4 linked regions of the Homo sapiens genome follow. The protein of the gene in region 1 binds, or shares a complex with, the protein of each later gene. Each region holds a gene or a part of one and is shown on either strand. Other genes may lie near its edges. A codon is read from its position in the direction of its gene.

What was found.
Region 2: the proteins of MAPKAP1 (region 1) and KRAS are in contact, whole or in part, in a crystal structure (PDB 7LC1), measured with the Homo sapiens proteins. Residues at the interface, in NP_001006618.1 of Homo sapiens: Phe280, His287, Gly288, Phe289, Ser290, Leu291, Ile292, Gln293, Lys307, Lys310, Arg311, Arg312, Lys313, Gly314, Ser315, Phe363, Glu365, Ile369, Val374, Met377, Leu378, Ser380, His381, Tyr484 (codon at 806), Glu487 (codon at 797), Ser488 (codon at 794); in NP_001356715.1 of Homo sapiens: Ile21, His27, Val29, Glu31, Asp33, Pro34, Ile36, Glu37, Asp38, Ser39, Tyr40, Arg41, Leu56, Glu62, Glu63, Tyr64, Ser65, Ala66, Met67, Asp69, Gln70.
Region 3: the proteins of MAPKAP1 (region 1) and RICTOR are in contact, whole or in part, in a cryo-EM structure (PDB 7PE7), measured with the Homo sapiens proteins. Residues at the interface, in NP_001006618.1 of Homo sapiens: Ala2, Phe3, Leu4, Asp5, Asn6, Pro7, Ile9, Ile10, Leu11, Ala12, His13, Ile14, Arg15, Gln16, Ser17, His18, Thr20, Ser21, Asp22, Asp23, Thr24, Met26, Cys27, Met29, Val30, Leu31, Ile32, Asp35, Val36, Ser84; in NP_689969.2 of Homo sapiens: Arg108, Gln137, Glu140, Thr144, Leu147, Arg148, Arg151, Lys152, Thr155, Arg182, Met183, Arg185, Ala186, Ala189, Cys192, Glu193, Leu196, Leu220, Arg222, Ile223, Glu225, Ala226, Leu227, Thr229, Thr230, His233, Asn236, Arg293, Trp295, Glu844.
Region 4: the proteins of MAPKAP1 (region 1) and MLST8 are in contact, whole or in part, in a cryo-EM structure (PDB 7PE8), measured with the Homo sapiens proteins. Residues at the interface, in NP_001006618.1 of Homo sapiens: Lys102, Cys103, Lys104, Asn105, Ile106, Gln107, Trp108, Lys109, Arg111, Asn112, Ser113, Lys121, Leu123, Phe124, Glu125, Lys126, Lys127, Ser128, Leu129, Gly137, Lys138, Gln139, Ser140, Ile141, Leu142, Val144, Arg145, Leu146; in NP_001186102.1 of Homo sapiens: Ala29, His30, Pro77, Ile78, Ile79, Ser80, Tyr81, Asp82, Gly83, Arg98, Arg110, Ile111, Trp112, Gln120, Cys121, Gln122, Arg123, Ile124, Asn139, Gln140, Ala141, Leu157, Lys158, Ile203, Glu206, Ser279, Gly280, Asp281, Gln283, Asp322.

Annotation. Positions count from the first base shown.
Region 1 is NC_000009.12:125,438,201-125,445,222, forward strand, and holds part of MAPKAP1 (target of rapamycin complex 2 subunit MAPKAP1), read right to left. Parts: intron 6,399-7,022; coding exon 6,301-6,398; intron 813-6,300; coding exon 687-812; 3' UTR 1-686. UniProt on the Homo sapiens protein: Component of the mechanistic target of rapamycin complex 2 (mTORC2), which transduces signals from growth factors to pathways involved in proliferation, cytoskeletal organization, lipogenesis and anabolic output.
Region 2 is NC_000012.12:25,240,908-25,247,929, forward strand, and holds part of KRAS (GTPase KRas), read right to left. Parts: intron 4,489-7,022; 5' UTR 4,478-4,488; coding exon 4,367-4,477; intron 1-4,366. UniProt on the Homo sapiens protein: Ras proteins bind GDP/GTP and possess intrinsic GTPase activity. Plays an important role in the regulation of cell proliferation.
Region 3 is NC_000005.10:38,945,384-38,952,405, reverse strand, and holds part of RICTOR (rapamycin-insensitive companion of mTOR), read left to right. Parts: coding exon 1-210; intron 211-1,685; coding exon 1,686-2,694; intron 2,695-2,978; coding exon of another isoform or gene 2,979-3,050; intron 3,051-4,964; coding exon 4,965-5,142; intron 5,143-5,853; coding exon 5,854-5,938; intron 5,939-6,681; coding exon 6,682-6,915; exon of another isoform or gene 6,916-7,022. UniProt on the Homo sapiens protein: Component of the mechanistic target of rapamycin complex 2 (mTORC2), which transduces signals from growth factors to pathways involved in proliferation, cytoskeletal organization, lipogenesis and anabolic output.
Region 4 is NC_000016.10:2,201,107-2,208,459, reverse strand, and holds the start of MLST8 (target of rapamycin complex subunit LST8), read right to left. Parts: upstream 3,007-7,353; 5' UTR 2,948-3,006; exon of another isoform or gene 2,773-2,947; coding exon of another isoform or gene 2,585-2,772; intron 2,430-2,584; 5' UTR 2,400-2,429; coding exon of another isoform or gene 2,375-2,399; coding exon 2,246-2,374; intron 2,103-2,245; coding exon 2,051-2,102; exon of another isoform or gene 1,982-2,050; coding exon of another isoform or gene 1,964-1,981; coding exon 1,801-1,963; intron 1,426-1,800; coding exon 1,350-1,425; intron 1,268-1,349; coding exon 1,115-1,267; exon of another isoform or gene 436-1,114; intron 251-435; coding exon 126-250; intron 11-125; coding exon 1-10.

The sequences.
Region 1 (7,022 bases):
AAGCTGGGGTGTGCTGAAGGGGAAAGTGACACGGCCTTGGACACACCACTAGGTCTCTGTTCCTAACTTTTAGTAAGACACTACCCTCGAAGCAAATGCACTCATTTAAACAAATGGCATAGTTAAAACTATTGACTAAGACCTAAACATTTCTTCTGAGAAATCGAACCATAGCTTTTCCAATCTGCCTGTTCAATATGGGAACAGATTTTAAAGAGAGTAACATAATCAATCCTCCGCCCCAAAGAATGGTCCATCATACCAACCATGATAAAGAGTACACCTGTTTATTAAAAGGAAAAACAGAAATGTACATTTTTGTTGTTTGCTTTAAGAAATTTGATCAAGTTGCAAGGAAATGTGTGGGCACGGCTCTGTACATCCTCGGGCAGGGTGGCAGGCATTGAAGGTGGCTGGGCGGCACGTGGCTCCTCTAGGGGGTGGTCTGACCCCCAAGCATCGCTTATCAAAGCCACTGCCAAGCAGACTTCCGTCCCATGGCAATGTCCCCAGCGCTCCCTCCTAGGGGGCCCCCGACACCTTCCCCGAGAGCCCACCTGCCCTGTGCCAGTGAGCCAGGGGCTGGCCTCCCCCCGAGGACTTCAGGACACCGGGTGGACTCTAGGGCACTTGGCCCTGGCAGGCAGGCTCTGAGCTACGGAACAGATTGAGGCTGGAGGCCAGTGTCACTGCTGCCCGGATTTCTTCTCCTTCTGGAAGCTGAAGCTCGTACGTCTGTTCAGTTTTCTTTGTTTTTGAGCAAAGTAGTCAGCCCGGGCAGTGCTAGCTCGCGATTCCAGGATGTAGTTAACCTAGAAACAAGAGCACACAGCCCGGTCACCTTGCCAGCCGCTCCCTACCCACCCAGGGCATCGGAGGGGGTGGCAGGGAAGGCCCTGACCTGGGCCGGGTGCCTCAGGGCCAGGTGCTGTCGTGTGGAAGGAGTCCAGTCATCACAGCAACCTGGCAGCGGCTGGGCCCAGAGCCGCTGCTCTACGATGGGAAAACAGAGGCTTGGAGAAGCCAAGTGGCCAGTCCAGGCTTCCCAGTCAGTGAGCGGCGAGCTCTTCAGGTTCCGGAGCCCATGCTCCCTCCTGGCGTGAGCCACTCCCGGAAGGCTGTGCCCTGGGCTGCCTGGCTATGCCTCCCACCTGCTGTGTGACCTGGACAAGCACATAACCTCTCTGAGCCTGCCTTTCCCTGTGTGAAGGCCGAGAACACAGGGATGAAAAGCAAACCAAGACAGGCTCTCCATCCAGCCTCCCACCAGCCAGGCGCAGAGCTTCCCACCACAGTGCTTCCTTCAGGGCTCATGAGTGCCCAGCCAGGCAGGGCTCACTTGACAAAAAGGAAAGAGGCTCAGAGAGGGAGGCCAAAGTGGCCTAGGCCACGTGGAAGTCAGGGTGAGAGCTGTGAGGGGGCTGAAAGAGCCCTGTGTGAAGGGCGGGGCTGCCTCCTGGGCTCCTCTCAGGCCTTCTGCACGCTGCTGCTTCCACGAAGCCCTGGGAGTCTGCCCGGAGTCGCATGTGCATCTTCCACTCTGTGTAGCAGCTGCACCGCCAGGCGCTTCCCCAGCGCTACAGCGCTGAGACTTGGTCCTGGCCCTGGGGAGCTTGCTGCCTGGTGAGTGGGTGTCCAGCAGCAGAACCAGCACTGCAGCAGGCAAAGAGGAGCATCAAGGAATGGGGCTGAGTATCAGGGAGGTGTGGAGGAGGGAAGGCTTCCAGAGGAAAAGAGTGAGCGGGCTTTTGAGGGATACACAGGAGTTTTTGAGTGCGCAACGGGGAGGAGAGACGCAGCATGCATCAAGGCACAGCAGGGGCACGCCACAAGGGAGTGTCCCTGGAACTGCGAGAGCTTGGCTGGCTTAGTGAAATGAGGTGGTGGGAGCCAGGGAGGGGTGCTACAGTGGGATGCACACGCCCCAGTGCTGAGGACAGCCTGTGCCTGGGCATGGGCGGCAGCAGCAGTGTGAAATCAGTGGTGGCAACTGGCACTGCTCGGAGTGCCTTTCAGCGCTCATGGAATCTTCACAATAATCTTGAGACAGATGCCACTGTCATCCCCATGCACAGGTGAGGAAGTCAAGGCCAATGACAATAATGTCATTTAGTCAAGGTCACAAAGCTAGAAGGTGTCAGGCGCTTGGCAAACACCCCTTCCTGCTCCGCAGCCTCTCACCTCCTCTGCTCCTCTGGCTGGGGCTTTTGGTGAACAGACGCTATTTCTCTTCACCTGCAAGTATCTAAAAGTTTTGACTAGAAGGCTGAATATTTCTGACAAGAGAGGCCAGCCACTGCCTCTGCTGATTCTACTCCGAGGGCCATGTGTCCTGTGCCAGAGGGAGAGGAGCTTCTGCTGACTCCGAGAAGGAACCAGAGGGCTCCCGGGGGAGGCAGCGCGAGATGGCAACGCCTCAGATGGCCGAGGCTTCAACACTGTCCCTCCCAACTTTCTGCTCTGCTGGTTGGAGCAGCAGGCGTTAAAGGCTGGTGCGTGAGTACAGAAGGCCTGACACGCTCTGCCCGCTGCCTCGCCAAGTTACCAGCTGAGAGCAATAAATCATGAGGACCGCAGGGCCAGGTTGATGATTTGGGACAATACAGTGTATGGAAATAAGAGGTTTTATCATTCTTAATACAAGAAATCTTTGGATTATATTGTTTGCACACTCAGCCAACCTAGTGTTTTCAGTGTATTTTTGGCACATATAACTTGACAAAAGCATTTTAAAATGATCCTTAACAAGCCAACTATTTCCCAAATTTATTATCTTCAGTGCTTTGTGATAATCACATAGATAATGTTAATGGAAGATTAATGTAATAATCAAAAGATAAAAACGCCCTTTGCTCTGCCATTAGCTGGTTAATATGCTGTGGCTTAAAACTGGCACAATTTTATGCACTATAGAGTGTTTCATTTTCAACGCATTTTACAGCTTAAGGCATAAAAATATAGGGAGTTTTCATGGTCAATAAAGCCACAGCCTCCATCACTCAATCACGAGAAGAACCTGATTTGAAGAGCCCGACAACTCCTCTGAGATTCATCTCAAAGCCTGTGGAATTAGGGACCACCCATGGCTTAGCTCAGTGACATCTTGATGGGAAGAGGGCGGCTCTGGAGCTTCTCGGGCCAGGTTCAAGTAGAGGCTCCACCCTTGTGTGCTCTGTGACCTTGGGCCTCCATCTCCTCTTCTATAAAATGGGGACAATGTCTACATTCTGGAGGGCGGTCAGGAAGATTAAACAAGATAATGGACATTAGATGTACTGCATGTAGCTGGTGTTCAATAAATGGGAGACGTTCCTATTTCTACAAGCGCAAAAAGCTCGATGGAGGCTTTGTTCATGATTGTTTATTTGACATCAGATTGTGGCTCTTATTTCCTCCCTTCAATTTCCATCTAAGCTCTCATTTTATGTAAAATTCCTGAATTCTAGAACAACAGCATGCATTACTAGAGTCTAAACTGACTCCTCAAGAGCTTCTGATGGCAACAACATTTCTCCCAAGCTCCCGGACACAGGGCTGGGCTTCCGTTGCTTGGTACTGGTGCAAAGCTCACAAAGACACACTCAGGACACTGCAGGAATGGTGGATAAAACTAAGTATTCCAATTGCTATAAAAATCAGAGATGGGGCCGGGCCTGGCGGCTCATGTCTTTAATCTCAGCACTTTGGGAGGCTGAGGTGGGCAGATCACTTGAGGCCAGGAGTTCGAGACCAGCCTGGCCAATGGTGAAACCCCGTTCTCTACTAAAAATAGAAAAAAATTAGCTGGGCTTGGTGGCGGGTGCCTGTAATCCCAGCTACTCGGGAAGCTGAGGCAGGAGAATCACTTGAACCCGGGAGGTGGAGGTTGCAGTGTGCAGAGATCACACGACTACACCCCAGCCTGTGCAACAGAGTGAGACTCTGTCTCAAAAAAAAAAAAAAAAAAAAAAAAAAATCAGAGGTGGGAGAAGTACTATCTCATCTTCCATCAGGCTCATGATCATTAGCTCTAAGTAAATCAGGCCTAGGGTATGCTACAACTCTTCTGGAGTCTTGTGCATGACACAATATTTCTGCAAATATTTTGATATGGAAACAGACACTTTAGGGAAGGTGACAGACCTCACGGATTTTGCAGAGAAGCATCTGCTTCGAGGGAGCATTTGGACCTGTAAAATGATTTCTCTGCACTTGATCTTCCACAGTCTCATACTGAAGTCATAAACCTGTGTTTCTGTCATCAATCTGCTGTTGTGAAAATTATTTTGATGTCAAACATGGGATTATAATTTTACTAGAATCCTTCTCAAGTCTTGAATATTTTAATGCTGGCTATAAAAAAAAAAAAAAAAAGTCCAGCCCCTATCGGGGTAATGGAATATTTCTCTGCCAGGTCCCTGAACACTCTGCACAAGGGGCCCGTGCTGTCTGTGATGCTCCAGTGGGTAACTCGAAGCTCGCTGGCTGCAAGCACTCCCAGGCAGGCCCGTGTCCCCACTCCTTGGTCCAAGGAGGGGCTCTGATCAGGCTGGTCTATGAACCCTCTCCCTTTCATCCAGCTAATCATGCTACTCTGTCTGCTCCAAACTGTCCTTCCAGCTGCTCTTTTAAATTGCTACCTACTCCTTTTGAAAATCTTTTGCAGCCATGGGGAATGTGTCTCAATATATTCCTGGATCGCAATTCTATTTCATTGAAATCTCCCACACAACTCTTAGGTCATGCATATCTGGGGAATTAAAACACAAGTCTGAAATCTGTCAAATCTGGGGGCAAGTTCTGGTTCTGCCAACTTACCAGAGTCATGATCCTGGCTCTGCTACTTTATTCCTGATCCTCACTTTTCATCTGGGAAATGGGAACAACTTTATCTCATGATCTCACAGAGCTGTGAAGATGCACTGTGATGGGACACGTGGAGCCTCTGGCCCAGGTCCTGCACTGTGCAGTCCCTCAGCATATCTTCGCTACTTCTGCTATTATGTGATGACTTCAACTCTTCAGAAGAGACTGAATGATAACTTACATAGGTTTACCATGTCTCATCTGATTTGTACTCTAGCAGCCCTGGTGGGGTGGGGTAGCATAGGTACTATGATCCCCACTTTACAGGTGGGGACACTGAGTCCCAGAAAGGTGATGTGACTAGCCAGGGTCACACAACTAGGGGTGGGGGAGCCCTCTCTGGTCCTCGCCCCTGCTCTGCCACAGCAGCTGCTTTTCCTATCTGATCAACCTATGGAAGATTTGGCTTGAAGAAAGGATTCTCTGCTTGGGAGAGGCTGAGACCCCTAGTCCAGGGCTACTCAGAGTGTGGTGCCCAGACCAGCGGCCAAAGCAGCATCTGGCGCTTCTTGGAAACGTATGATCTCAGGTCCTATCCCAGACCTCCCAAATCCGCAAGACCCCTGGAGGCTCCCATGCCAAGCAGAGCTCCTCTCAGCCACACTCCACTCTGCAAGGCCCTGCACGGCCTAGCCCCGCCAGCCCCGCCAGCTCCCCCAGCCCCCCCAGCCCCCCATCCCCCTGTGCCTGCCTTGCCTCAGCCCATTCCCAGGCTGCCTGTCTGTGGTGCTTCCTCTCTCTTTACCTGGTCAACATCTGTGCCTTTTCAGTCATCCTTCAGGGTTCAGCTCTCCCTGCCTCCATACCTCCACCCCAAGTCAGTTTACTGTGACACACCCACACCTTTGAGACTAACGATCTCTTTGTAATTTTGTGTTTTATGCCTGTTTCCTCTGGTAGAGGAAAAGCTCTCCAGGGGCAGGGACAGAGTCTGTCACCGTGGCATCCCAGGCCGTGGCCAGGCACACGGAAGGTGCTCAGTGAGTATACTGTTTAGGTATGGTGACATACAAGTCTAGCAGAAAGTTAGGTATGTTTAGAACAGGTTGCTAAAATCACCTTCAGCATAATTATCTTCAAAACAATAATAATTTCCTCAGAGTCTGCTCCAGGAGCTTCAAGGAGCTCCTGACAATGGTTGCAGGAAAATAAACAGTACATAAAAGGAATAAACAAATACAGGAAGAGCCAGGGTTATTGGGATTGGGAGGAAACTGAAAAGGGTCCTGCTTTGACTGAAGCAGGTGCAGAGCAGCTGAGCGGGGGCTGGTGTGGCCCTGGCACAGGCACTCACCCCTGGGTGGCTGGCAAGCTGCGACACTCCTCCTCTGCCAAACTGGGCCCGGGAACCTTCTATAGAGCTGCGGAGTGGGTGGGGCTGCGGCCATGCCGCAAACAGCCTGAAGAGAAGCTGGACCCACCTACCCTGTCTCTGGTTCAAGAAGGAATACTCACCTTGAGCACAATTTCATTGACGGTAGCAGCGTCCGATTCAAAGTAGAGGTGTTTATAGTCGTGATTGCTTAGATACGTGAGTTTAAATATTGCGTGACCTGCAGAGACAGAAAACTGTGTTGAGGGGTTCTGGTGAGTTAACTATGGCGGGGGCCTCCATATGTTCTCCCCTATCATTCCAATTCGAGCGAGAGCAAGTGGAGGCTGAGCAGCACCTAGTCTTCCCAGGAGTAGTTCGTTTTCTCATTACAGGCTGGGTATAAAATGGACAATGAAAAAATTTTAAAGACTCAACAGCCAGTTAGGTCCCATTCCACTCTGGAATGCATTCAGGGGAATGCCACGTTAGGAAGGCTTTACGGAACTGCTGCTATATGATAATTACATGCAAAAGGTGGCGTTTTTAAGGGAGAAGGCTAATTAACTCCACATTATTACTCTAAAAATAAACTAACTGTTTAAAGTCAGATAAATGAGCAACAGGAAGGAGAAGGGTCAAAAGCCACACTATTATGAGGCTGCTCCACAGCCTGGGCTCCTGCTGGGAGAGGACTCCTGCCTGGAGAGGGAGAATCCCAGTTTTAGACCCTGCTGGAAGCTGCTCCCAAAGGCCTCAGGTCATCTCAACCCTGGGAGGATGGGGGCGGGGGGGGCACCATGGAAAGTGGGCACCTCACAAAGCGACCGACTCCAGGGGGCAGAGCTTCTGAATATAAATCTGA
Region 2 (7,022 bases), on another chromosome or scaffold:
TACAGTCCTATAAAACTCTACAAAATGTGCACTTTCACAATTTGCCACTTCTGAATAGGACCCTCCTATCATCCCCTGTAACACACCACCAAGCCTTGGACTCCATTAAGCAGCTCCTGAGTGCATGCAAAGAAGCTCAGAGAGCCACACTGCTGCCTTTTAGTCCCTTCAACAAAGTAAGCTCAGTAAGTGTTAACAACTGAACCACCCTATTTTCTTATATACTGCCTCGTTTCCTTTCTTAGTTCACTATACTCACCTACTTAGTTAGGCCTAACTAATACAGACAGTAATCTTTATATTAATATTAGCAGAGAGCAAAAATGATACGAAATCAATCATATAAGACTTTTAAATAAAACGAATATATTTATAAATTGATGCCACCCATAATTTAAACAGCGAAACTACACAAACTTAGGATTTCACTGTTACTTGTTATAAAGCAAATAATTTGACCAGTAGAGGGCACTCACAAAAGTGGGGAGAGCTTCACAGCCTTGAAGAGAAATGATTTATAAAATTGCTGTGTGTCTCTGATTTTAAAAACAGAATGTTTTAATAGAAGACTGGAGTAAGCTAACATATCATTAACGTACAAAAGTTAAAGTTTAAATCTTTGTTATACTTGAAAATCTAACATAAACCTTATGTCAGGGACATGAATTTGACAATTTAAAGGATGTTTAAAGCTACAGGTTAACATATCAAGGTTTGGATCTTAACACCATTGAGGTTTGGGGTCAGATAACCCTGTTGTGGGGGCTTTCCCGTGCACTGCAGGAAGTTTAATATTAGGTTGGTGCAAAGGTAACTGCAGCTTTGCCATTTAAAGTAATAGCATCTACTCAATAGATGCCAGTAGCAGTACTCTCTCCCCAAGTTGTGGCAACCAAAAACATCTCCAGATGTTGCCAAATGTCCCCTGGAGGGCAGTCACCCAACCATCCCTCATTGATTACTAAAGATATATGTATAAACTCAGAAGAATAGCAGCTTACAAATTACATAAGGCTTTTCTTATACCAGTCTTCAGTATCAGTTTAATTTTACAAATTTTCTCTCTATAATCTACATACTTCATTCGTAGGTAAAATGAATTCTACAATGAACATGGAAAAATAAAAATAAAATAAAAATTAAAATAAACCTTGGTAAATAAATACTCTACAGCTCAGAACACTAAAGATGAAACAAACCAATCCAATGATTAATCTGGTCTTCCTTACTGAATAGGAAACTGTTCCATCAAAGAGGGGCATAATACTTGAACTGAATTATAAGTGCCACAATAAAAGCATGCTGATGTCAAACAATTAGAGCCTGGGAAAAAATACTTCCTGCTATATTTATTCTTACTAGCATATTATATACAGTAGATACTTAATATATATTTGGTAAGTGATCAACTAATCATTCTGATCTCTGTAACTACCTACATTTTTTTAAAACGAGACTTTTCCTCTTCCACCAAATTTTACCTTAGAAAAAAAACTTCAGGGTTTTGATAATAAATGATCTCTGAACTATAAAGGTATATATTTCTAGCCAAGTATTGTGTTTGGGGGCTATTTTGAGTTTTCAATAATCTTGCCCTAATAACGAGGTATTTCATTATCTCTTTAGTGGGCTTCATAAAAGATAACAATATATACTTCACAATACAAGTAAAGGTGATTATGTGCACAGCCTCGAATACAAACATACTCCATCTATGTGTCATACCTGAATGATTTTACATCATACCTCTGCCACTAAGTTGCCATTAGATAGCAGGCTAAGTTCAAATTTTGGTATACTTACAAATCTGAATTAGTCTCCATTAGTAAATATTTTCTTAATTTGAAAGATAGCTAATTTTCAGTTTTAAAAAGTTATACAAGAGTACAGTGCAAATTCTACTTAACTTGGTCTCAGAGAATTTAAATTGAAATCCTACCACTTATTAGCTACGTATCCTTAGATGAGTTACAACCTCTCAGAGACATTATTGAAAGAAACAATAGCCACCCTCCTTACTATCTCTTAGTGTAAATTTTGAAAAATCTAAATCACCAAAAAATACAGTATTACTTGATTTAAATTTTTAAAAAATTTATTTCCATTTTAAATGTAGAAAAACTGCTAATAATTCCAAAATGTGCAGTCATATCCTTTCTAATTTTCTCTCTGACCCACACGGATTGGTAAATACCAATCAAAACCTGCAATGGCAGTGAAATCCCCATATCCTCCTAAATTTTTAACTTTTTACAATAACATGGAGTCAGCATTTCCATTTAACCAACTATTTAACTACTAAGTTCTCCTGCCTTTCTTACAGTTTAACTACACCAAGAACTTAATGTAATGTGTCAGTTCCCTCAGAGACTCACTGTAACTTGGGAGATAAGAGATAATCTCAGATACCTTTTCCCAGGTGACTAAACTACGTCAGGGACCGTCAGTTTCAAAGTTCACAGGTAACCAATGCTTCCCAGAGTCAAGTCTTCTGGTTTGGCAGAAATCATAAGCAGAGTTATAGGTTTAAGTTTATAAACTTTTTCAGCCTTCCGCCCAAATAAAGGCTTAACTGTTAGCTTTATTTCTTCAACATTTATATTGCATTTTAACAATCATTAGCAAAAGGTTTCCTAACCCACTTTATCACATTCATGACGTCATGCTGTATATACTCATATAGCACTCATGACCTCTGATTGGAAACAAAGTGTAATGGAATTTCTCAGATTTTCAGGGAAGACAGACAGCATTTCCAGTAAAATCACCTTCCAAAATCCCAGGAAAACTTTCAGGCATAAAGTGAATTATATTAAAACTTCCTTTTACATCTGATTTAAATAGTAGAGTCTGCCAAGTAACCCTGAATTTGCAATACAGATTAAAATGGGTGCACTATTCAAACCTCTTCAAAGAAACAAAACTATAGTACACATTGAATTAACTTGTCAAAAGTAAATATACAGAGACTATTGCATAGGCAGTCTACTTCAATTAGACTGTTCCCCTTTACTGCTGTAAATTCTTAAAATTGGAAGCCAAATAAAGTTGTTTCTATGTTTAAATCAAATCTTTGCAAATAGGCATTATTTCTCCACTTTTTTATAGTACCAAAAATATGTGACGTTTCCTTATGATTAGTTATCTAATCAATTCTCCAGGTTCTAAACTGCATAAATATCTTCCCAAGGCCACCCAATGCCCTCAGAACTTGCCTCAGCGCAAAGTGTCTCTTCAAGACACTACACAGTACAGTACGTTAATAAGGCACTTTGACCTGTTCTAGATTTCACAGCTTGGAACTTGAAGAAAGTTCTTAGAAATTTTTCAGAACTGATTTTTTTAAATTAGTACACTAGATGTAGAATAAATGCTAAAGTATTAGGACTGCTTAACCCAGGGTAAAGAAGCCTAAGAAACAATCTAACAATATAGGGCTATTTCAAAGACAAGGCGATATGCTTATTTTCCATCTCCACTGATGTTAAATTTAACATGAAGATCCAAATTACATGTAAAATATGCTAATAAATATGTTCTGAAAATGAGTTAACAAGGACAGTTGGGGAATGTCCCCTCCTGGAGGTCTTTGAGATTAAATAAATCCTCATCTGCTTGGGATGGAAGTTCTACTCCATGACCTTCAAGGTGTCTTACAGGTCTTTACTTATCATTCTGCTGCTGGTCTTTACTTTGGTAAATTTTCATTAAACTAAAAAAATCTGAAAATAATCCTCAAAAACATGATAACAATTTAAATTTACTCAAGGAATTTTTTTTTAAATCCTAGTATTTCCTTGAGTAAATTTAAAAATGACAACAAAGCAAAGGTAAAGTTGGTAATAGTACCTTTATATAAACCACACCTTAGGCAAATAATTCATTTTGTAAAATTTATCCGGTAGTTGTAGGTTCTCTAATGTTGAGAAGAAGATAGGAAAATACTGCTGATGAAGTTTAAAAAAATCAACCATCAAACAATTATATTTCACTAGTACAATTAAATCTAACCTTTACATATGATGTCACAATACCAAGAAACCCATAAAAATAAAAGTTACAATAAAAAGATTGTCTTTTAGGTCCAGATAGGATACAAATTTCTACCCTCTCACGAAACTCTGAAATACACTTCCAATCAAAATGCACAGAGAGTGAACATCATGGACCCTGACATACTCCCAAGGAAAGTAAAGTTCCCATATTAATGGTTACATATAACTTGAAACCCAAGGTACATTTCAGATAACTTAACTTTCAGCATAATTATCTTGTAATAAGTACTCATGAAAATGGTCAGAGAAACCTTTATCTGTATCAAAGAATGGTCCTGCACCAGTAATATGCATATTAAAACAAGATTTACCTCTATTGTTGGATCATATTCGTCCACAAAATGATTCTGAATTAGCTGTATCGTCAAGGCACTCTTGCCTACGCCACCAGCTCCAACTACCACAAGTTTATATTCAGTCATTTTCAGCAGGCCTTATAATAAAAATAATGAAAATGTGACTATATTAGAACATGTCACACATAAGGTTAATACACTATCAAATACTCCACCAGTACCTTTTAATACAAACTCACCTTTATATGAAAAATTATTTCAAAATACCTTACAAAATTCAATCATGAAAATTCCAGTTGACTGCAGACGTGTATCGTAATGAACTGTACTTCATTTACAAACTCCTCCATCGACGCTTAAGAAAAATGCATAAATGCTACATAGACAGTTCTTTTATCTTAAAATCAAGTTGTTCTATCTAAATAGCCAGACTGCTGTTCTGCGGCGGCTAAAGGCTCTCAAAGGATCATATCATGACTTCACTCATGTAGAGACTTCACAGTGCTCTACACCCTGTAGCACACCCTCACAAAAGTTGCTGACAGCTATCTCCACTCTTATTGTTACAGTTTTCCTAGTGGACCCCCACCTCTAAGTGTTAGAAGTCAATATGCAACAGCTACAGAAAAACTTTTAAAGCATCATGGCAGTAGTTCTCTTGGATAAATATTAACAGTAAGAATCAGATGAGAGTTGAGAGAATGAGTGTCAAATAAAGCTGGATTGTGTCATGGGGAAATAAAAATTTAAACACTGAGGCAAAGAAGAACAATATTTGACGACATTTTAATGTGTGAAATATCTCTGGGGAAAATAGGAGTCCGAGGTTGCAATGAGCCGAGATGGCGCCACTGCACTCCAGCCTGGCGATAGAGCAAGACTCCGTCTCAAAAAAAAAAAAAAAAAAAAAAATCTCTGGGGAAAATAAAGCTAAAAACCAAGAGAACTCCGAATTAACTGTTCAGTACAATACATAATCCTGTATCACCGCTGCACAAAAAAAGATAAAGATTAGAAAGCCGGGTGCGGCGGCTCATGCCTGTAATCCCAGCACTTTCAGAGGCCAAGGCGGGTGGATCACCTGAGGCCAGGAGTTCAAGACCAGCCTGGCCAATATGGTGAAACCCTCTCTCTACTAAAAATACAAAAATTAATCAGGCGTGGTGGCGCTCTCCTGTAGTCCTAGCTACTGGGGAGGCTGAGGAAGGAGAATCACTTGAACCCGGGAGGCAGAGGTTGCAGTGAGCCCAGATCACGCCACTGCACTCCAGATTGGGTGACGGAGTAAGACTCCATCTCAAAACAAACAAACAAACAAAAAGATTAGAGATAAACACTGTTTTTAGTAAGAAAACAGCTGTTAAGAGATGCAAGTGAGCCGGGCACGGTGGCTCACGCCTATAATCCTAGCACTTTGGGAGGCCGAGGAGGGTGGATCACGAGGTCAGGAGATCAAGACCATCCTGGCTAACCCGGTGAAACCCCGTCTCTACTAAAAATATAAAAAAATTAGCCGGGCGTGGTGGCGGGCGCCTGTAGTCCCAGCTACTTGGGAGGCTGAGGCAGAAGAATGGCGTGAACCCAGGAGGCGGAGCTTGCAGTGAGCCGAGATCACGCCACTGCACTCCAGCCTGGGCGACAGAGCCACTCCGTCTCAAAAAAAAAAAAAGATGCAAGTGAATATATCTCAGTAATCAGTAATCCATGTGACTGTTACTCTTTGCTTTTCATACACTGTCTCCCAAGAGGTGCATGAATATTGACAGATTGTATAACAAACACCATACAGAAAATAAAACATATTTTTTAGTTAGTTGTTTCAAATTTTTTGAAATAATATGAATGTTTAATTTCACCTCCTTTCCCTCATGTAACACATAATTATAAATAAGGAGAGAAATGCAGAAAAAAATGGGAGTAAATGCACAACTATTTATTATAGGATGAGTAGCTCCAAATTAATGAATGTGCATATATTGTAGATAAACACTAAATATACACAGCATCATAATTGACTGAAGACCCAAAATAATAATTTGGTTTCCCAAATGATAACATACTAACCTTACTCCTAAGCCCTGCCGCAAAAAGCACCACAGGCTAGAAAAATTGTATCACACACGGTCACGGCATAGTTCCCCGCCTTACTCTGCTCTACCTAGACTTATTGGCTGCTTGTCTAGGGTGAAGTTAACAACCACTACAAACATGTATCTTATCCCGTTTGCCTCCACGCTTTATTTCAAATGTAGGCCAAAGCAATTAGGAATAGATGAGGAGAATTACACTAAAATGTATCTTCTAGCTCTCTGCCTACCCCAACCTCCCCCCAACCAGTTTGCATAGCCTAAAACAGTTCTCAAAATGTGGTCTAGGAACCCCTCAGGTTACTAAGACTTTTCTGGTGTGCAAGAGGTCAAAACTGTTTTCATAATAACATTAAGATGTCCTTTACCCTTTTAACTCCCATTCTTTCACAAGTTTTCCAGATGTGTGATCATAATAGATTGAATGCAGATGCAGATATAAGAATCCATATCTTCTATTAAGCCACATCATTAAAGAGATTTACTGAAGTGTGAAACAATACCACTTTTCTAAGTTTTGGTTTTGTTTTGGAAAATAGTTATTTTTCATAAAATATTTTATTCATGTTACCAAGTAATGGGCT
Region 3 (7,022 bases), on another chromosome or scaffold:
GGCTCATAGCTAAAACCAAACAAGGCTGTGATATTCTAAAATGTCACAACTGGGATGCTGTGAGGCATAGTCGCAAACATCTGTGGCCAGTGGTTCCAGATGATGTGGAACAACTCTGTAATGAACTTTCATCTATCCCAAGCACTCTAAGTTTGAACTCGGAGTCAACCAGCTCTAGACATAATAGTGAAAGTGAATCTGTGCCATCGAGTGAGTATCCTGACAGGTTCATATAAAGTTAGCCAATGTTAACATTTATATTTGAATTTTAGAATTTAAATGTATTTGTTACATTTGTAATTTGCTTTTGTCTAAGATAATTATTTGGCAATAATAGCCTCTTGGAGAATGTGTATATTTTCATAACAAAGAGTATAATCACCAGCTTACATTTTTCTCTCTCCTTATATTCTAAGTAGCTTTTGAGGATTCCTACAAAGTTATGTAATAAGCCATGTGCCAGAAGAACCAGTCCTCCTTTTTTTGACAGAAAAGAAACAAATATAACAAGTATTTATTTGTCTACCTTCTTTATTTAATCTTTTTACTCATTTTTCAGATACTGAGATTGTTGAGCCAGAATATATTTTTAACTGATATTATATTCACATCTTCATTTTTGAGAGAAGCACTAAATTTTAAAATAGTGAAATTGTTAATAGAGTAACAAAAATAGTTATATATAAAATGATTTGTGGTTTTAAGTCCTGTGCTAAGTGGTGTTAGGTGTACAAAATTTAAGGCATGGTTCTTCCTTTTAAGAAGATAGTGTCAGCTTTATCAGACTGTGTATTTCACCAAATCTGAGATGCCATGAATTATGAAATATGCCAATATTTTATGTACCACAAAAGAAGAAGAAAGAAGAAGTGCTGCCTATTAAACTAGGACATACTACAAGATGCATATTGATTTTAGAATCAGATTCTGTGTGAAAATAGAAGGGATTAAATGTGAAAAGTGTGCATCTTAGAATTGACAAAATATAGAAATGGTAATGCAGTATGCAAATTCACTTAGGATTTTCTTTTACCTTCTTTGAAAATATATTTGAAGTATTTGTAATTATTCAACAGAAAAGTTAATAAAAGAAAAATCGTATAGATGTCATTAGGCACTCACTTGGGTTGCGTCTTCTAGTAGAATTGGGCACTAAATTTAATGAGTTTCTTAGTATCTAAGGTAAAATGAGAAATAAACATAATTTAAACATGAATTTATAATGTTACCACTTGGTTCTCTGTAAGTATATTTTAAGATTGGGAATTCATTTCTTACAAGGTGAATTTCTCCTGCTTATAGTAATTTAAAGAAGAACCACTAGGAATCTGTAGTAATTGAGTAAGCATCCATGGCCAAGTCTCCTTTTTCCCTTTAATTTCATCCTGAATATTTGGAGAATCAAAAGAAACTTCATGTAACCTGTGCCATAGTGGGTCTTATAATAATTTTTCTTTGGAAATAACAGGAGATTCTCATAAATTACATAATTTTACATTTTATTCAAGTCCAAACTCTGGGTTTCAAGAAAGATATTTTCAAGTAGCTGAATGGTTTAACCGTTTATTTTTAAATTTTTTCCTCTAGATGACTAAAAAAAAATTTCCTGAAATGTGATGTCACTAATAGTTATCATGAATTTGTCATTTTATATGTGTTTTTATTAATTGATCCTTCAATCATAGGTATGTTCATATTGGAGGATGACCGGTTTGGCAGCAGCTCTACTAGCACATTTTTCCTTGATATCAATGAAGATACAGAGCCAACATTTTATGACCGATCTGGACCCATAAAGGATAAAAATTCATTCCCTTTCTTTGCTTCTAGTAAACTTGTGAAGAATCGTATCTTAAATTCGCTTACTTTGCCTAACAAAAAACATCGTAGTAGCAGTGATCCAAAAGGAGGGAAATTATCATCTGAAAGTAAGACAAGCAACAGGCGAATCAGAACACTTACGGAGCCCAGTGTTGATTTTAATCATAGTGATGATTTTACACCCATATCCACTGTACAGAAAACATTACAATTAGAGACTTCATTTATGGGGAATAAGCACATTGAAGACACTGGTAGTACACCAAGCATTGGAGAAAATGACTTAAAATTCACCAAGAATTTTGGTACAGAGAATCACAGAGAAAATACAAGCCGAGAGAGGTTAGTAGTAGAAAGTTCAACGAGCTCACATATGAAGATACGTAGCCAAAGTTTCAATACAGACACTACAACAAGTGGCATAAGTTCAATGAGCTCAAGTCCTTCACGAGAGACAGTAGGTGTAGATGCTACAACTATGGACACAGACTGTGGAAGCATGAGTACTGTGGTAAGTACTAAAACTATTAAGACAAGCCACTATTTGACGCCACAGTCTAACCATCTGTCTCTCTCCAAATCAAATTCGGTGTCCCTGGTGCCTCCAGGTTCTTCTCATACGCTTCCTAGAAGAGCACAGTCCCTTAAAGCACCCTCTATTGCTACAATTAAAAGTCTAGCAGATTGTAACTTTAGTTACACAAGTTCTAGAGATGCTTTTGGCTATGCTACACTGAAAAGACTACAGCAACAAAGAATGCATCCATCCTTATCTCACTCTGAAGCTTTGGCATCTCCAGCAAAAGATGTGCTATTTACTGATACCATCACCATGAAGGCCAACAGTTTTGAGTCCAGATTAACACCAAGCAGGTAAGCAAATATATGTTTAGAAGTGACCAATAATGGTTGCATTTTAACAAATTTAAATACAAAATGTTAGCCAGGTTTTACACTATGTGAGCCTCATCACTGACCTATTATAATTGTTTACTATGGTAGGCTATAAGCTCCTTGTTACCCGATATGACTTGAAATGGATTCTTGCAGCTGCGAGGGGGGAAGAAAATCCTATAGGCCCTGAAAATAAACATACATGCTTTGCAAAGGACATACAAGTCACAAGCTTTTTTTTATTTATTTCTCGCTTCTGCAAGGATCGATTTTAAAAAGAAGCATGTCGGGGGAATCAGGAGCTTAAGACCTACAATAACAAACAACCTTTTCAGGTAGGTCAATTTAAGGCTCCAAAAGTTGACCTCTTTATTATTTTTTTAAAAAGATAAATGAAAATTTCAGTGAAATTATTTTCACTTTAAGTAGCTGTGATTATTAAATAGGAACCTAATAAACACTAAATGAAATACTTGGTCCTCATGACTCAGCAGGGATTTCTATACCATATTTAGATTATATCAAGCTAGTCAAAGTGAACAGTTTAGATTTTACTTTTAAAAGATACACAGTATTTGCTGCAAAAAAATTTTGTACCTATAATTTTTGTGGTTGGACCAAATGCTTCTAAACAACTTTCCTTAGTTTTAAATTATTCATTTACATTTATTTAAGTGGATTAATATATGTCAGGTACTTATATGTCAACAATATATGTTAGAATACTTTAGCACATATTAAGCACTCAATAAAAGTTAGCTATTTATCATCATCATTGGTAGTTATTTAATGTAATCCATCTAGCCCTTACATTATTCTTAATAACATTAAGCAGTTTTGTTTCAATAATGCTTAACACATTTAATAGAGGGTTTCTTGGTAGCAGACAATGAATTGTGTACCCTTACAGGATTTAAGAAATTATGCAGCAATGTCTCATCTATCTGGAACTCACTAGCTTTGGCAACCTTGTCCAGGACAAAGCCAGGGAAAGTTCTCAACAGCTCACTGTTACAAATCTATGCAGTAAAGTTCATGAATTTTGAACATTCCTAAGCCTCAGTTACCTCATCTGGTGGAGATTGCACTAGATCAGTGGTTGTAAACTTTTGTATTGTTGTTTTTTAAGCAGAGAAATTATTTTTTCACATAAAGATTTCTGTGGAAACCCAATAGGTAGAATAGATAGAAAGGGACCTATACTGGTTGAAATAGGAATTGGGAAGGGGAATAATCCAATAATTGTTTTCCTCCCACTCCAGTAATCCTTGAAGAGTTTTATGGGAACCAAAGAAATGTAACAGATTACAGTTTGAAAGAGTGTTTTTTGGGTGGAAATTAGGAGCATGGTTTTTGCTATGTTAATAGCTACTATTTAGAAAGCATTTCTTTTGTGTGTTTTACAAAATAATTATTTGATTTAATATTAGGCTGCATTCGTACATTTTAAAGACTTGGTTTTCCAAACAAAAATATCTTCATATAAATGTATATAAATGTGGAACCTTGCATAGTGCCTTGTATATATACAGCAGATACCAAGTAAATATTTTAGCATGTCTGTTGCATAAGTAAGAATCTGTATGAGAAACATGTATCTTATGGAAATATCAGTGTATCATATTTGTTATGGAATCTCTAGTAGTAAGGAGTACATTGTGGAAATATCAGTACATTGTGGAAATATCAGTGCTTTTTACAAGGATATCTCGTCATAAATGACCATTTTGCTCTTGTGTCTGTCTTGTGTGCTACATAAATCTTATGTTGATAATGAAGGCATTAAGGTAATTATCACACAAATAATGATATGTAATTGATCTCATTTTTTATAAATATAATATTAAATAGAGTTGATACACATATCCTTAGTTACATAAATGCCAAATCTAGTAGTCTCAAGTGATTATGAAGATAGTCCTTGGACCATGCTCTGACTACTGAGGTCAGTTTCTTTTTTTACTTCTAGATGTTGAAAGTTATTCTAATTGCCCACCTTTTCACCTTTACCTGAGAGACCATAACAGTTGTTTTTGGTAACAGTCAACATTACTGGTGACCTTTTACATAGCGGTCTATAACAGCTAATATTTTAAAGTGTTTATGTGTTGCCAGTAAACAAGATGACACTGCTTAATACATGACTAGCTACTTGTCTTTTATGAAGGTAGGAATATATGTTATTTCTTCATATGATTAAAATTACAGATCAAGAAACTAATGCAAGTGGTTTCTTTATGGTTTTATAGGTTCATGAAAGCCTTAAGTTATGCATCATTAGATAAAGAAGATTTATTGAGTCCTATTAATCAAAATACCCTGCAACGATCTTCCTCAGTGCGGTCCATGGTGTCCAGTGCCACATATGGGGGTTCAGATGATTACATTGGTCTTGCTCTCCCGGTGGATATAAATGATATATTCCAGGTATTATCATACATTTTATTGTTTTCCTATGAGTTGGTTTCCTATTTTTTCATATGCTGTAACTGCTTACTAGAAATCATAATTTAGGGTGGGCACCAGTTTGGGGCAGCATGATTTTTAAGACCGTTTTGTTTAAAGAAACTTTAAGATTAAAATTATTTTGCCCTTTTCAACTACTCTGTACTCTTTTATTTAGTCCTTAGAACATTATCCTTCCCTCTCTTCCCATATTAAATCAGTATCTCATTTGATTTCTTTATCCATATATTCTCTGTAGAAATTTATGAAATTTCTAACTTGTTTTTTAGTCACATTTAACTTATACCTCATTTTTAAATCCTCATTCCTATTTATCCCATAAAAGGTAGCCAGCCATATGTGGTACCCAGTAATATAAGGTGACCCTAATCCCAGGAGATACCCACAGATCTCTAGATGGTATATAGTACTAAAGAACACATTTTCTTAGAAGTTGAAAGACATTTTAGATAAACGCTAAAATAATTAATGTCCATTTAGTCACTAATAATATAATAAGGACTTTTTGGGTTATTTTGTTAAGTTTTGGTAGTTGAACCTTCAGTAAACTTGATTATAGGTTCATATGCTATGGTAATTCTATTTTAATTTTATTTTGTTTAATTTTGCTAATTTTCATAAAGTGGGCTTATTTTTATAGCAGGACTTACCATGGTTTATATCTTTTTTTAGGTAAAGGATATTCCCTATTTTCAGACAAAAAACATACCACCACATGATGATCGAGGTGCAAGAGCATTTGCCCATGATGCAGGAGGTAATGCATTGTGCATTGTACTTGTGAGATGCCTCTTTATATTAAAAAGAAAACTCTTAGTTCTTTCTAGTAGGATAACACTAAAAATTTAGGAAGACTCACTTTTGGATCAACTTTAAAATTATACCAAAACAATTGTTAAAGTCAGCTTAAAATTAAACCACATTTTTGTGTATGTGTGAGGGACTTAACAGTGTTTTCAGTGAAGTACTCAACCTTTCAAGGAAATAGAAACCAAATTAGTTGTTTCTGTTTTTTAAAAGTAGCACATGAACAATGTATAACACTAATCCTCATAGATCCAGGAAATAGCTGTTTGTTTAGAGTAAGGAGAAAGAAATGTACTTATAAAATACACGGTCTTTGTTTTGAACTGTTATATTTTAATATGTAAATATAAGCCACAGGTTTTATAGCTTTATATTCTTAATGACTTTTTAAACAAATGCCTCTTTATACTTAGAATTATTACATATCTTTAGGCAAATATTGACGATAATTGAAATGATGTATTATATAATCTCAATTTTCCATTTTGTATTTAAAACACTATATATTAAAATAATAAACATCTGCTGGCTTTCCTTATTTTTATAACTTAAAGCAAATTATTCTTTTTTTCTTTCCAGTTAGATTTTGAGTCATAAAATGTGCTTAAGCTTTCTTTAAAATTTCACATAATTTAAGGTACCTTGAAAAGTATTATCTTTATTGGATTATGTTTTATATTTACTTATGCACAGGTCTTCCATCTGGAACTGGAGGTCTTGTAAAAAATTCTTTTCACTTGCTACGACAGCAGATGAGTCTTACGGAAATAATGAATTCAATCCATTCAGATGCCTCTCTGTTTTTAGAAAGTACAGAAGACACTGGACTACAGGAACATACAGATGATAACTGCCTTTATTGTGTCTGTATTGAAATTCTGGGTTTCCAGCCCAGCAACCAACTGAGTGCAATATGTAGTCATTCAGGTAAGTGATCACGTCCCACCTTCAGAAAAACCTAGTGATGACTAAAGTTCTCTGGTTTACTTTTCCAAATTTCTTTTTGGTATTCTAATTCAGAGTTTCCCAGCTGG
Region 4 (7,353 bases), on another chromosome or scaffold:
GGCGAGGAGCCTAGTGGGTGGGCATGGGGCGTGTCCAGCAGCAGCCACTCCATCCAGCAGCCCCTCCCCTCTCCAGCCCCCAGCCCAGGCAGGTCCCCTCCCGGGCCAGCAGGCCCTGCACGCACGTGGAGTCGGGGCTGAAGCGACACTGCAGGGCGTAGCGCGTGTGGGCAGGGATCTTAGTCTTGGGGATGAGCTGGGTCACCTCGTCACCAATGCCCCCCGTCAGATTCCAGACATAGCAGTTTCCCTAGAGGTCAGGAGGACCGTCACGGAGGGCCCAAGGCCTCAGGTCTGAGACACAGGGAAGGATGCCCTGGGGGCCAACACTGGGGGCCAACTGTGCATGGGGACCCCGGGTGAGGGGCAGGCAGGCCCCTCTGGTCCTGCCTGCAGAAGGCACCTGGGAAGCCTGGCCCCAAGCAAGGGCCACACCTGGCAAGCCAAGAACAGGAGGCCACGCCTGGCCAAGGACTCAAATTCTCCTTCCTGGAGGATGCCGATGGCCAACGGAAGTAGACAGGAGAAGGGCACCAGCTAGAGAGACAGCATGACAAAGGCCAGCAGAAGGGAAATCCGGGGGCAAGAGGTACAAGTGATGCACTGGGATTAAATGAAGTTAATGAAAAAAAATGAGGCTGGAGAGAAGAGCAGGGGCCACGCCACAGCAGCCTACGGGCGAGGCCAGCAGCCCCGGGTCTCCTCAGGGGAATGACGCCACCTGGCTGATACTGACCAGGCACCACTAGAAGCATCCAAGAGAGAACGTGTCAGGGGCCAGGGGAGGTCAGGGAGGGGGAAAGGAAGCCTCAGAGAGTGTGTCAGCCGTCACCAGAAACAAGGGTGACTGGGACCAGGAGGCAACAGAGTGAAAAGAGGGAAGTGGATCGACTTGGGAGAGACTCCAGAAAGCGGAGTGACCGACCTGCAGACAGGACTAAGCCATCGGGAGCGACACTAAGGCTTCTGGCTTTGCTGGCAAGGTGGGTGTTAGTGCCCGGGATGGGGAAAGCAGGAGGGGGCCGCTAAGGGACATCCAGGAATAAGCCCACCTGCAGAGGCTGAGGGCTGAGTGCCAAGCTGCCCGCACCCAGCACCTGCCACCAGGACTCACGGTGCTATTGACAGCTGCCATGTAGCTGGCGTCGGGATCGATGTGGGCGGACGTGATGGAGACCTCGGGCTCAGGGATCAGCTGCTCGTTGTGGTCTGTTTTCAAGTCCCAGATGTGGATAGCCCCGCTCTGGTCACCCACGATGAGCTCTGCCTGGGGTGCAGGGGTGGTGAGGCAGGGCCCAAGCCCAGCCCTCCAAAGTCCCAGGGTGCCTGGCCCCATGAGCACCCCTCACCTGGTTGGGGTGCAGGCACACGCAGTTAATGGGTGCGTTCACCTGGAAGATCCGCTGGCACTGCAGGTTCCGGGACCTGCGGGCCGGGCCGGGGCACATGCTGTCCATCTGGGCTTGTTGGTGCCCTACCCAGATGGCCTCGGCCTGGCCATTCCTCCCCTCCCTCTGCTGAAGGACCTGCCTCTTGGGAAATACTTGGGACGCAGGGCCCTCTGCTCCAGCAGGGAGCCTAAGCCAGTGGCTGGTGGAAGGGGAATAACAAGCTGGCTCCGGGCTCAAGGCAGGACTCGCGCTCTGATGCAATTCACTCTCCTCCTGTCCTCACTTCTCTCAGTAAGTCGCCCACAGGAAGCTCCCTGTCTCAGCCTCTGCTTGAAGAGAACCCAACCTAAAACGGTCTCCCAGAGCAGCCCACCCCAGCCCCGGGCAGCACGCCCCCTCCCCACCGCACCTGAGGTCCCAGATCCTGGCTGTGCAGTCCTCGCCGCCCGTGTACATCCAGCGGCCGTCTTCGTGGAAGCCCACAGACGCGATGTTCTTGTTGACGCCGTCGTAGCTGATGATGGGGTTAGGGTTATTGGAGTTGAGATCATACATGCGGATGTGCTGGTAACCTAGGGACACAGGCTGAACTGAAGCTTGGCTGTGCTGAGGTCGACCCACCAGAGCTCAGGAGTTTAGAGATCAAGGATCACAGATACCTGCAGCAGCAATCATGCTGCGGTCCGGTGTGACCTCCAAGGCATTCACCTGCTGGGACTGTTAAGGAGGATGACGGGAAGGTAGCCCTGAGGCCAGGGCCCCCCAGGCCTCCACCATCTGGCCTTCACACAGGCTGTGGTCCCCACACGAGGCATCCCCCCAGCGCCGCCCTGCCCGCCCCGGGTGGAGGATACGGAGTCCTGGTGCTGCACCGTCCGGGTGCAGATGCCGCTGTGGGCCTGCCAGAAGCGCACGGTGTGGTCGTAGCCTGCAGTGGCCAGGATGACCGGGTCACTGCCCACCGTGCCTGGGGAGGTGTTCATGGTGTGGCCTGCACGGGCCCTAGAGCTGAACGGCAGGGGTCAAAGGTCAGAGCATCTGCAGAGAAGGATGTGAAGTACTTAGAAGACACTCTCTGTGCTAAGTAGATTATAGACCCACAAGGCGCTGCCGAATGGCGCTTATCATTCCCATTTTAGAGTTGGGACAAGAAGCGCAGGTAGGTTCAGGGACACGCGTCACACGCGTGATACCTGGCTCCGGGGCTCCAGGGCGCGTGCTCCATCCCCGCCCCACGCACACGGCGGGGGCGCCGTCCCCCCCCCACCTCCGCAGCCGGCAGGGGGGAGTCACGCGCGGGCGCCACTCTGCCGCAGGGGCGGGCTGCGCGTGCGCAAGGCGGCGGATGGGCCGGGGAAAGCCGAGCGCTGCGGCTGCGCATGCGTAGCAGGCCAGCGGCAGGCCCTGATGGGAAAGGGCGCAGTCTGGCTGGACCCCCGAGCTCCCCTTTCCTCCGGTGACCGCCCTTGCTCCGTCCTGCTGGCCGGCTTCCCCTGGCCGTGCTCTCCCAGCCACCCAGCAGCCGGTTCCCGGCCCCTGGCTCGCGGCCTCCGTACCTTACGGGCGGCTCCGCACTCCGCCGTGTCCAGGACGGCGAGGGGAGCCGGAGCGAGTCGATCGAGGCCGAGCGTAGAGTTATCGATGGCTCCCTAGGGCGAGACCATGGCGCGGGCGGGGGTGGGTGGGACGAGACCAAAGTTCTGGGGCGGGGGGTTCCCGCCGGGAGGAACTCGGAGCGGTCCCCGTGCGCGGCCGCGGGCCCGGCGCGAGGTGGAAGGAAGCTGCGGCTTTCTCTCCGGCCTCCTGCCCACTGGCACCTGCCCTTCTGACACGGCTGTCCGTTTCCCGGGCTGTCGGGTCGCGCTGTTCCGGTGCCCTCCCTGACCCACTACTGCGCCACGCTGGGCTAGGATTGGCTGAAAATTACAGGACTTGAATTCAGACAAGTAACGAATAATTTTTTTTTTAGTGTAAGTATATCCAGGACATTGCATGGGAAATACTTATGCTAAAAAAATTTTATTGGGTATCCTGTAGTTTTACTTGCTAGATCTGGCACCCCAGCCCCAGCCTGACCCTCAGGACATCCCACTGAGCCCAGGGTCCCCCTCAAAACCACAGGCCCTCATTCCAGCTCTGTGAGCTCCACGCCGGTGCCCTCACCCTTGAGACAGGCTGTCGCATGGTTTTTTCCTGCTGCTCTTACAGACCTGGCTGCACCCCTTCCTCTGGCCGCAGAGGGGGTGCATCTTGTCCCTTGACCAGGCCATAGTTCCCATGGAGCCTTCCTTCCTATACCTTCACCTCCTCTCCTTCCTGCCGGTTAGCCTTTAAAAAAACACCATAAAACAATCCCAAATTATCTTCTTCAAAGAGCGGTCCTCACCATTTTTCTAGTTCCACGTCCTCACCTCCCACTCATTCCGCAACCCCAGTCATCTGCCTTTTACCCCCAGCTCTCTAGCTCTCCAGTGGAAATTCCTCAAGGTCACTGACAATCTCACTTTGCTAAATCCAGTGGATACTTTTCCTTCTTCCCACCTTTTTTTTTTTTTTCTCTCGAGACAGAGTCTCGCTTTCTCGCCCAGGCTGGAGTGCAGTGGTGCAATCTCGACTCACTGCAAAACCTCTGCCTCCCAGGTTCAAGCGATTTTCCTGCCTCAGCCTCCCGAGTAGCTGGGATTACAGGCACGCACCACCACACCTGGCTGATTTTTGTATTTTTAGTGGAGACGGGATTTCACCATGTTCGCAAGGCTGGTCTCAAACTCCTGACCTCAAGTGATCCGCCTACCTCAGCCTCCCAAAGTGCTGGGATTACAGGCGTGAGCCACTGCGCCCGGCCTCTTCCCACTTCTTCTTTCTTTTTTTTTTTTTTTTTATTGAGACGGAGTCTCGCTTTGTTGCCAGGCTGGAGTGCAGTGGTGCGATCTCGGCTCTCCACAATCTCCACCTCCCGGGTTCAAGCTATTCTCCTGCCTCAGCCTCCCGGGTAGCTGGGATTACAGGTGCATGCCACCACACCCAGTTAATTTTTCTATTTTTAGTAGAGACAGACTTTTCACCATGTTGGCCAGGATGGTGGATGGTCTTGATCTCGTGACCTCGTGATCCGCCCCCCTCAGCCTCCCAAAGTGCTGGGATTACAGGCGTGAGCCACTGCGCCCGGCCCCCTCCCACTTCTTGACGCATCTGAGCCATGGTTGACGGCACCATGCCTGAAAGGCTGCCTTCTCCTAGCTCCTGTCCCCGACATTTAGTCTCTTTCCCTGCCTGCCCGCAAGGACTCAGGCCCTTCAGCATTCACTCTGTGCACCCCACGAGATACCAGGGGGCTGATGACTGCTAGCTCTGGAGCTTCCAATGCTGTCCCTGTCCTGGGCCCCTTCCACCCTGTCTCCAGCTCTGATGGCCTCAGCTCCCTGTTAAGACACTGTCCCTTGAATGCCCCGCAGGGTCCACCATATTCCAGGGCCAAGACAACCCATCCCTGAGTAGCTCCCCTTCTGTGGGCAGTGCCCACCTTGTATTACAGCTGGGCAAGATCCGACACCTCCCCTCCCTCACCCTTCCCTTCCCTTCAGCCACCGATTTTACCTGTGATATACCTTCCTGTCCTTTCCACTGCCCTGGTTCTAGCTCACCACCCCCATCCCCCATAAAAGCCTCCTTCCTTGCCCCAGCCACTCTGGCCCCCTTCCAAACTGTCCACCACAGTGCAGAATGGCCTTTTATTTATTTATTTATTTATTTATTTATTTATTTATTTATTTTTGAGACGGATTTTCACTCTTGTTGCCCAGGCTGGAGTGCAATGGCGCGATCTCGACTCGCTGCAACCTCCACCTCCTGGGTTCCTCAGTCTCCTGAGTAGCTGGGATTACAGGCATGCACCACCATCCCAGCTAATTTTGTATTTTTAGTAGAGACAGGGTTTCTCCATGTTGGTCAGGCTGGTCTTGAATTCCTAACCTCAAGTGACCCACCCACCTCAGCTTCTCAAAGTGCTAGGTTTACAGGCGTGAGCCATCGCGCCCGGCCAGAGTGGCCTTTTAAAAACCTCAGTCTGAGCCCAGCACAGTGATTCATGCCTGTAATCCCAGCACTTTCGAAGGCTGAGGCAGGAGGATCACTCGAGCCCAGAAGTTCAAGACCATCCTGAACAATATAGTGATACCCCATCTCTACAAAAAATTTAAAAATTAGTCAGGAATGGTGGTGCGTGCCTGTGGTCCCAGCTTTGGGAGGCTGAGGTGGAAGGATCACTCGAGGCCAGGAACTCGAGGCTGCAGTAAGCTGTGGTTGAGCCACTGCACTCCAGGCTGGGTGACAGAGCAAGACCTTTTCTCAAAACAAAACAAAAACCCCCAGCAAAACCTAGGAATGACTTGATCACCCCATTAGAAGCCCTCAGGGGTCCCTGTCCCTCTCCAGACTCCTGGGCCTGGCCCTGGCCCTGGCCCATCCTGTGGCTTCCATCTCCTCTCCATGTGATACCATTAGGCTTTGTGTCCCCACCCAAATCTCGTCTTGAATTGTAATCCCCATAATCCCCATGTGTCAAAGGAGAGACCAGGTGGAGGTAACTGAATCATGAGGGCAGGTTCCCCCATGCCGTTCTCATGATAGTGAGTGAGATCTCAAGAGATCTGATGGTTTTATAAGGGGTTCCTCCTCCTTTGCTCCACTTCTCCTTCCTGCCGCCTTGCGGAGAAGGTGCCTTGCTTCCGCTTCGCCTTCCGCCATGATTGTAACTTTCCTGAGGCCTCCCCAGCCATGCTGAACTGTGAGTCAACTACACCTCTTTCCTTTATAAATTATCCAGTCTCAGGTGTTCTTTATTGCAGTATGAAAATGGACTAATACTCCATGGGTCCTGTACTCTGGCCAAAGGAGACATGTTCTCCTCTTTTGTTTTCTTTTGTTTTGTTTTTCAGACGGAATCTCACACTGCTGACGGGGATGGAGTGCAATGGCGCAATCTCGGCTCACTGCAACCTCTGCCTCCTGGGTTCAAGCAATTCTCCTGCCTCAGACTCCTCCCAAGTAGCTGAGATTACAGGCACCCCGCACCACGCCTGGCTACCTTTTTGTATTTATAGGAGAGACGGGGTTTCACCATATTGGCCAGGCTGGTTTCGAACTCCTGATCTCGTGATCTGCCGCCTCGGCCTCCCAAAGTGCTAGGATTACAGGCGTGAGCCACAGCACCTGGCCATGTTCTCCCCTTTGAGCCCTTGACTGTGTCTGGGATGCTTTTCCCTCTACGCCTTACCTGCCAAATTCCTGGTTTTCAGCATATCTAGTAACATTTTCTTTTGGCTGGGCATGGTAGCTCACACCTGTAATCCCAGCACTTTGGGGGATCGAGGTGGGAGGATCGCTTGATCCTAGGAGTTTGAGGCTAACCTGGGCAAGATGGCAAGATGACCTCTTCTCTGCAAAAACCTTAAAAAAAATTAGCTAAGTGTAGGCCAGGCGCGGTGGCTCACGCCTGTAATCCCAGCACTTTGGGAGGCCGAGGCCAGTGGATCACGAGGTCAAGAGATTGAGACCATCCTGGCCAACATGGTGAAACCCCATCTCTACTAAAAATACAAAAATTAGCTGGGCATGGTGGCACACGCCTGTAGTCCCAGCTACTCGGGAGGCTGAGGCAGGAGAATCGCTTGAACCTGGGAGTCAGAGGTTGCAGTGAGCCGAGATTGTACCACTGCACTCCAGCCTGGTGACAGGGTGAAACTCCATCTAAAAAAAAAAAAAAAAAAAAAGGAAAGTAAAGAAAACTTTTTGGCCGGGTGCAGTGGCTCATGCCTGTAATCCCAGCGCTTTGGGAGGCCAAGGCGGGTGGATCACGAGTTCAGGAGTTTGAGACCAGCCTGGCCAAGATGGTGAAACCCAGTCTCTACTAAAAGTACAAAAATTAGCTGGGTGAGGTGCCAGGCACCTGTAATCCCAACTA